2 linked regions of the Homo sapiens genome follow. The protein of the gene in region 1 interacts with the protein of each later gene in a pairwise test. Each region holds a gene or a part of one and is shown on either strand. Other genes may lie near its edges.

The links.
Region 2: the proteins of GPRIN2 (region 1) and LNP1 interact in a two-hybrid assay, tested with the Homo sapiens proteins (one large-scale study listed by BioGRID).

The regions. Positions count from the first base shown.
Region 1 is NC_000010.11:46,553,771-46,558,094, forward strand, and holds the start of GPRIN2 (G protein-regulated inducer of neurite outgrowth 2), read right to left. Parts: upstream 2,889-4,324; 5' UTR 2,728-2,888; intron 2,647-2,727; exon of another isoform or gene 2,284-2,646; intron 1,760-2,283; exon of another isoform or gene 1,605-1,759; intron 942-1,604; exon of another isoform or gene 926-941; 5' UTR 815-925; intron 296-814; exon of another isoform or gene 1-295.
Region 2 is NC_000003.12:100,407,865-100,411,673, forward strand, and holds part of LNP1 (leukemia NUP98 fusion partner 1), read left to right. Parts: intron 1-3,809.

The sequences.
Region 1 (4,324 bases):
CAAAGAACACACAGCTGAAAGTGGCTAATTCAGAACCCCAATGGATTGGCCTGGCTAACTACAACCTGGCCTTCCCAGCTCAGAAGGAAGGAAGGGCTCTGAGGGGAGTACTGGGGGAAAGAGGCTTCCACACTGCCTGTCACAGTGCTGTGGACTGGGCCAGAGGAGGGGCCTCCCAGGGAGCCAGGGGTGAGGAGGAAGGGGCAGGGCTCTGCTTCCAATGGGGGCTCTTCCCCTTCCTGTGCATGTACTCACAGGTGGACCCCTAACTTCTTTGAGCCTCAGTTTCTTCAATCTGCAAAACAGAAATAAATCCCCACCCTGCAGGGTTGTTGTGAAGACCAAATGTGACAGCATGTGCACTGTCTGCAATAGTGTTTGTTAACAATAATCTTCTCTTTCCCCTCCCATCAAGAGCAGCTTAAGTTCATGGTATAACAAGTATTAGTACTGGGGGCCAGAGAGGCCCTTTTCAGAAGCCATCAAGACACCCCAAAGGTTAGCCTCCTCTAGCTTCCCATCCTCGCTACCTTCATCCCATCCTAGGACCAGGTCACCATCAGTGTCCCCAGTCTCCCTATCACCAAACTAGGTTTCCCAGAGCCTATTTTAAATGTTAACCTAGGAGGCTACGCATGCATACAAGTCTAGAGTCTGCACTTTAAATGCCCAGAATGGCACACCCACCCTGCCTTTATAACAACACAGAAGGTTCTGGTTTTGCCCTAAAGGGACCCTCGGAAGATCTTTTAGGACAAGATAAAGAACAGGCATACAGAAGTATCCAAGACCTCTAGTATTCTTTGAACGATACCTTAATGTTCTCTCTCCTGCCCCATTTGATGCCGAAGTTGCTATGGTTGTGGCCGATGTCCCGTGGCCAATGCCAGGCTGTCCTGCTGCCTCAGGTTCCACCTGTCAGCAACTGGAAGATCAACCACCTATGTAGCAATCAACCAATGTCATTTTGAGTAAAAGCCCCCAGTTCTCAGACACTTCCAGACTAGCCCAAACATAGAGACCTTTGAGTCAACGTACAGAGTCCAGCTCCCGCCATGCTGCCACAGCAGAGGAGCCCAGGCCTTTGGGATATGCCCAGGGGACTACCAAGACCACCACAAGTGGGCTCCATCTCAGACAACACTGTGGCATCCATCTAAGTCCCCTCTTGGTTTTGTTCGTTCGTTTGTTTGTGAGACAGAGTCTCGCTCTGTCTCCCAGGCTCGAGTACAATGGCTCAGTCTCGGCTCACTGCAACCTCTGCCTCCTGGGTTCACGTGATTCTCTTGTCTTAGTCTCCCGGCAGCTGGGATTACAGGCGTGCACCTCGGCGCCCAGCTAATTTTTGTATTTTTAGTAGAGATGGGGTTTTCGCCATGTTGGCCAGGCTGGTCTCGAACTCCTGACCTTAGGTGATCCACCTGCCTCGGCCTCCCAAAGTGCTGGGATTACAGGCATGAGCCACAGCGCCTGGCCCAAGTCCCCTCTAGTTAAGTGGCAAGCATTTGGATGATGACTTATGTGTCCGGCAAAACCAAAACAGGAAAAGCAAACCTATATGATCAGGCAGGAAAACTGGTTCTATGTTAAAATATGGACCTTACCTCTCAAGGACCAGGCAGGAATGCACACAGCACAAACCCCCATTGCACAGTGGGGATACAGCACCCTCCAGGAGGTGGTTTAATCCACCCCAGAGTGAACGGGGCCTGATAGGAACACTCAGGGCCAACTCTGGGCAAAGCAGCAGGCAGCATTCCTAAAGGGAGGGTTTGGAGGAGACAAAACCTGCCCTTCACAATGAACGTGCCTTAAGGGCTACATGCCCCGGGTCACAAGCTGTGCCAGGAAAGGGTTCTGGGGTAACTGTGGGGTCAGTGGCCCCATGGATGAGGCTCTGCTCACCAGGAAGAGGCCTAGGCGCCCAACAGCCCCTGAGCTTCCTCCCCTGGGGAGGATTTGCCCACAATCCCTGGGGGGCACCTAGGTGGAGAGGGTGCCCCGGCCTAGAAGCAGCCTAGGCGGCCGGTGTGTCCCTATCTGCACGCTCACAAGCACTCATGCCCCAGCCTGGGACACACAGGCCCGTATGCAGTAACAGCGTCTACCCAGCTGCACTCTGCACGCCAAGCACAGGCCGCCCCTGCTGCGGGGCCAAAGGCCTGAAAGCACCGCACCACGCAGCCTCGCCCAGAATAGCTCCCCTCCCGCCCCTCCTGCACAAAGCCCACCCGGACTTAGGGAGAAGGGGGCTCAATACGGGCCCGAAACGAGGCTACAGACCTTCTCAGGAGCAAAGGCAGCGACTGCAGGCAAATGGGGCTGTGGGCCGGGGTAATGATGCGGGACAGGAGAAGCCAAAGGGCAGCAAGGCTGGGGGCGGGGTAGGCGGCGCAGTAGGCTGAGGGAGGGGAAAAGGAAGAAGGGGAGAGGGAGGAGCGATGGCAGCAGGGGTGGAGGCCGAAGGAGACAGGGTCCCGGACAGACTTGTGAAAATGGGAGGATGGGCAGAGGAGACGTAGAAGAGGGGACAGGACAGGACAATGAGAGGCGGAGCGCGGGGAGTGCGATGCGGCCACCGGGGGCTCTGGGCGCTGGGCAGGGGCCAGGATGCCGGGGGTCTGAGCGCAGGCAGCGGGAAGGAGTGGGTTCTGAGGCTCAGCAAGGGGGAGGTGCCGCCCACCACGCCCCCCGCCCCAACGGGAGCGCGCGGAGCCAGCCTCTCACCCTCTCGCCCGCCGGGGCCGCGCAGGCGGGGGAAGCGCTGCTCCTGCGGCCGCCACAGGTGCCAGGTGCCGCGGCCCAAGATGGAGCCAGAGCCGACCTGGCCTGGGCGCGAGACGCCGCCCGCCGCCGTCGGCCCGGCCCGCGGAGCAAGCGCCGGGTACAGGGAGGGGCCAGCGGGGCAGCTGGCACCGGGGCGGCGGGAGGGGCGGCGGGCGGAGACCTCGCTCACCTGGGCCCGTGCCACTCTGGAGCCTGCCACCGCCCCGCCGCGGCCCGGGATCTGCGTCCGCGCGCCCCCACCCCTCCTTCCCGACCCCTCCTCAGGCCGGGTCCCCACTGTCCTCGGTCTTTTCGGCCCCGCCCGCACCACGACCGCCTGTTCTCCAGGCTGCCCAGCGAACCCCCAAGACTCCCACTTCCCCGACGCAACCCCACCGTCCCGGGTGTATAGGCGCAGCTCCCCACGATTCTCCGGCCCCAGACCCAGCCCCTCAAGTCCACCTCCTCGTAGCCCCACCCCCTCGCTCCAGTGCCCCTCGCTCCAGTTCCCCCTCCGCACCACGCCCCGCATTGAGGTCTCCGCGCCGGCGGCTACCCCTTTCCTCTCGCCTTCTCCATCCTAGCTCCGCCTCTCACAATTCTCTGGCTCCAGATCCCGCCCACGAGACCCCGTTTCCTATAGGGCCCTTTCGTCTGGGATACCAGGCCTGGTCTCCACTAGCCTCGGACTTTCCAGCCCCAGGTCCCAAATCCTGGACCCACCGTCCCATCCTCTGAGCTCCACTCTCATGGACCCCAAACCTCACTCCAGTCCTTTGAACTCCATGATCCTGGCCTGGCCTGGCCCCCGGAGCCCTCCATTGCCCCTCAAGAGCCCAGCCTGGTAGACTCCTTCCCTAGGGTTGCATCTCCAGCCCCGCCCCTGAAGACTGGTAATCTACCACCCCTTTCCCTGCCCACGTGCCCCTACCCAGCCCGACTTGAGGCCTTCAGTCTCCCAGCCGCGGACCCCAACAGCGGGCGAGGGCAGTGACCGTGCGGGGATGAGCCACCTCCACTGGAGCCCGCCTTCTTCTCCGCAATTCCCCGCAGCACCACAGCGCCTTCCCGGTCCCGTGACGCCGGGGGCCAGCCCAGGCCCTGGGATCGCCAGGTTCCACACTATGAGGCTGAGGACCTGGGCCTACGGTTCCCTCAATATCCCCCAGTTTCCACAACCGCTGGCCAGCTTCAGGGCGCAGGACAGGCAGCCCCGGCCTCCCGCCACTCGCAATAGATTCCTGCTGTCCACCCAGGGCCACGTGGTATGAGGCACCTGTACTATCTCTGGGCCCCAGTATCACATAATTGGGTCCCAATGTTGGCACTTCTCCGTTGTCCCCTGTGCCGGGACCCCCAACTTGTTGGCCCAGCCCTGTGCTGAGAGGCCTGCGTTCCTCCCTTCCAGTGCCCAGGAGCCAACAGTATCTCTAATTCTCCCCGTTTGGGTAGCAAAGGACCTCAGTCTGCCCAGAGAGACTCAGACTGCCCCAGGTAGCCCTCTCCAGCGAGGTCTGAGAGCAGCTCTCAGATTCTGGCAGATGGCTGCCTTTGGCCA
Region 2 (3,809 bases), on another chromosome or scaffold:
TCCTGCTCTTGATGCTCTCTATTACATTTTTACATTCATTGTATTTTTCAGCTCCAAAATTGGTCTGATTTTATTATTTCAATTTATCTGGTAAATTTCTCATCTGACCATTTATTATTTTCCTAATTTTGTTGACTTGTTTCTCTGTATTTTCTGAAGTTCTTTGAGCTTCTTTAAAACAGCTGTTTTGAATTCCTTGGCAGATAGTTGATATATCTGTGTCTTTAGGGTCTATGACTGGCATCTTATTTTGTCTGTTTAGTGATGTCATGATTCCCCGATTGTTCTTGTGGTCATGTGTCAGTGTGTGTGCATTCAAGAAGCAGTTACTTATTCCAGCCCTCACAATCTGGCTTTGTCTGGGAACATCCTCTAACAGTAAGCCTGTCCAGAGATTCTAGGCAGGTCATTTGGTGTGGTCTCCGAGCCTGTGACCACTGCAGCCCTTCCAGCTCTAGGGAGTGCTATGTACTCCCTACTGTGACCAGCACAGTGCCACGCTGAAATCCCGTAGTCACTGAAGCTGACTTAGCACTGGGATGGAATCCTGTGGCTGCTGAGGCTGGTGCAGCACTTGGGTGCACCCAAAGCCCACAGCTGCTGAGGCTACTGCAGCACTGGGGTACATCTGAAGCTTGCAGCCACTGAGGGGGCCTGCCTGTTGCTGTGGGTTATTTGGATCCCAAGACCACTGTAGTTGGCTGATGGTGATGTGGGCTGGAACTCAAGTTTGTCTCACAGGGGCTATGGTTTCCCATCTGCTGCCGGGATGGGTCTAGAGTCTCAGTCTGCAGTTACTGGCCTGAAGTCATGGGTCATGGGGGGGTCTACCCAGTGCTGAGTTTTACTGTGACAGGCCTGGTATTGGGGTCCAAGGCAAAGTCTTACCTTTACTTTCCTCTCTTCCTCCCAAGCAGACAATATCTTTTTCCGGGCTGTGCTGCCTGGTCTTGGGGGAAGGGTGACATGGGTAATGTAAAACTGTTCTTCCTACCTACTTAAATGTGTCTTTTCTTATTATTATGCTATAACCAGGTGCTATAATCTCTCACCTGGTTTCCTTAGCTCTCGTGAAGGTATTTTATACATAGATAGTTGTTCAAATTCATATTTCTCTGTGGGAAAATTGCTGGAGAGTCCTATTCCACCATCTTGCTCTACTTTCCTCTGTGAGAATGTTTTGGATGAGATTGATACTTGAATTGGCAGAGTGAGTAAAGCAGATTGCCCTCAGTGTGGTTGGCCCTCATTCAATCAGATGAGGGCCCAAATAGAACAAAACTTGACCCACTGATGAATAAGAGGGAACTCCTCCTCCCTAAGTTCCTTGAGCTGGGATATTCATCTTTTCTTGCCTTTGGACTTGAACTGAAATATCAGCTCTTCTTAGGTGTAGAGCCTAGTGACTTTCAGACTGAAAAGATACTATCAGCTCTCCTTGGTCTCCAGCTTGTTTACTATAGGTCTTAGCCTCCATAATTTTGTAAATAAATAAATAGGCTGGGCACGGTGGCTCATGCCTGTAATCCCAGCACTTTGGGAGGCTGAGGCGGGTTGATCATGAGGTCAGGAGTTCGAGGCCAGCCTGGCCAAGACAGTGAAACCCTGTCTTTACTAAAAATACAAAAATTAGCTGGGTGTGGTGGTGGGCGCCTGCAATTCCAGCTCTCTCTCTCTCTATATATATATACATACACACACACACACACACACACACACACACACACATATATATATATATATTTTTTTTTTTTTTGAGTCTCACTCTTATAGCCCAGGCCAGAGTGCAGTGGCGTGATCTCGGCTCACTGCAACTTCCGCCTCCTGGGTTCAAGCGATTCTGCCTTAGCCTCCCGAGTATCTGGGATTGCAGGTACCCACCACTGTGCCCAGCTAATTTTTGTATTTTTAGTAGAGACGGGGTTTCACCATATTGGCCGGGCTGGTGTTGAACTCCTGACCTCAGGCGATCTACCCACCGCAGCCTCCCAAAGTGCTAGGATTACAGGCGTGAGCCACCACACCCAGCCTAAATATATATTTGTATATATTTAATTAAATATATGCATAAATATATATGTACATAGCTTACATCTATCTATCTATCTATCTATCTATCTATCTATCTATCTATCTACCTATTTTATCTGTCTATAATTAGTCTTGTTTCTCTGAAGAACCCTAATACAGATTTTGGTACTAGGAATGGGGTGCTAATGTAACAGAAAAATACCTAAACAAATGGAATTAGCTTTGGAACTGATTGATGGGTACAGGCTGGAAGATTTTTGAGGTGCCTGCTAGAAAAAGCCAACATTGTTGTGAGGGAAGTGTTGGTAGAAATATGGATATTAAAAGAAATTTTGGTGAGGGGTCAGAAAGTAAAGAGGAGAGCTAGAAACAAAGCTTCCATTTTCTTAGAGAATACATAAATACATGAACAGAATATTCATTCAAATGTGGATGTTAAGGGCCATTTTGGTGAGATCTCAGATACAAATAAAGAACAGACAGTTGGAAACTGGAAGGTGATCTTTATTATAAAGTAGCAAAGAATATGGCTGCATTGTGTCCTAGTGTTGTGCAAGGTAGAACTTGCAAGTGATGAAATTGGATACATAGCAGAGGAGATATCTAAGTAAAGTATCAAAGGTACCCCTTGGGTCCTCCTTGCTGCTTATAGTAAAATGCAAGAGGAGAGAGGTGAATTGAAGAAGGAATGGTTAGGAAAAAGGAGCCAGAACATGGAGATTGGGTACAACTCATGGACTTAATCAGCCATCTCATCAGAAGCCAAGAATAGAGATGGGATTTTACCAGCAGAAACACTGCTGGCTGAGACTAAGGAAACAGAAAAAATGAGACAGGATGAAGGAAAGCTATCAGACTTAGATTTTACAGGATGGGACCATAGAGCTATTTGGCTCTGAAAATACTTTATCCTTCAAGAAAAGGGAAGACTGACTCCAACAGCAATTCAGAAATCCTCAGGGCTGCCAGTCCCACTACAGGCCCAGGGAGTAGGTCTGAATCCTTCTGTTTTTCAAAGAGTGGGTGTGCCCTTCCAGTTTTGGTGGGTCAGGAACCCTTGCCTACTATATCAGGGTCAGGGTCAGGTTTGCCCTAGCAGAGAGCTTGTGGACTGGCCTTACTCCTTAAGCTGAAGGGGCAAGGCTACCCTGTAGAGCTGTGAGAATGATACTACCACCCGAGAGGGCCTGGGGGGCAGAGAGTTGAACCCAAGAGGGTTATTCTCTAGCTTTAAGATCCAAAGGAATTTTCCTTGCTAGATTTTGGACTTGTTACAAAAGCCATCACCTCTTCCTTCTTTGCTATTTCTCCCTTTTGGAGTGGGACTGTCTATCCTATGCCTTGTCCCATCATATTTTAGAAGCACATGACTTGTCTGGTTTCACAGGTTCACACCTGCAGAGAATTTTGCCTCAGGATGAATCACACTTCAGTTCTCTCCCATACCTGATTTAGATGATATTTAATGAGACATTGGACCTTAAGCTTTAGAGGTGATGTTGTAATGAGTTAAGACTTTTAGCACATTAGGGTGGGATGAATGATGAATGTATTTTGTATGTAAGAAGGGCATGAATTTTGGAGGCCAGATGCCCCACTCTTAGTACCAAAATCTGTAGTACTCTACAAGTGTTGCTGTAACAAAATACCACAGACTGAGTGGCATAAACAGCAGAAATTTGTTTATCATGCTTCTGGAGGCTGGGGAGTCCCAGATCAAAGTTCAGGTCTGTTTGTTTTCTTGTGAGGGTTCTCTTCCTGGCTCACTGTAGGCCACC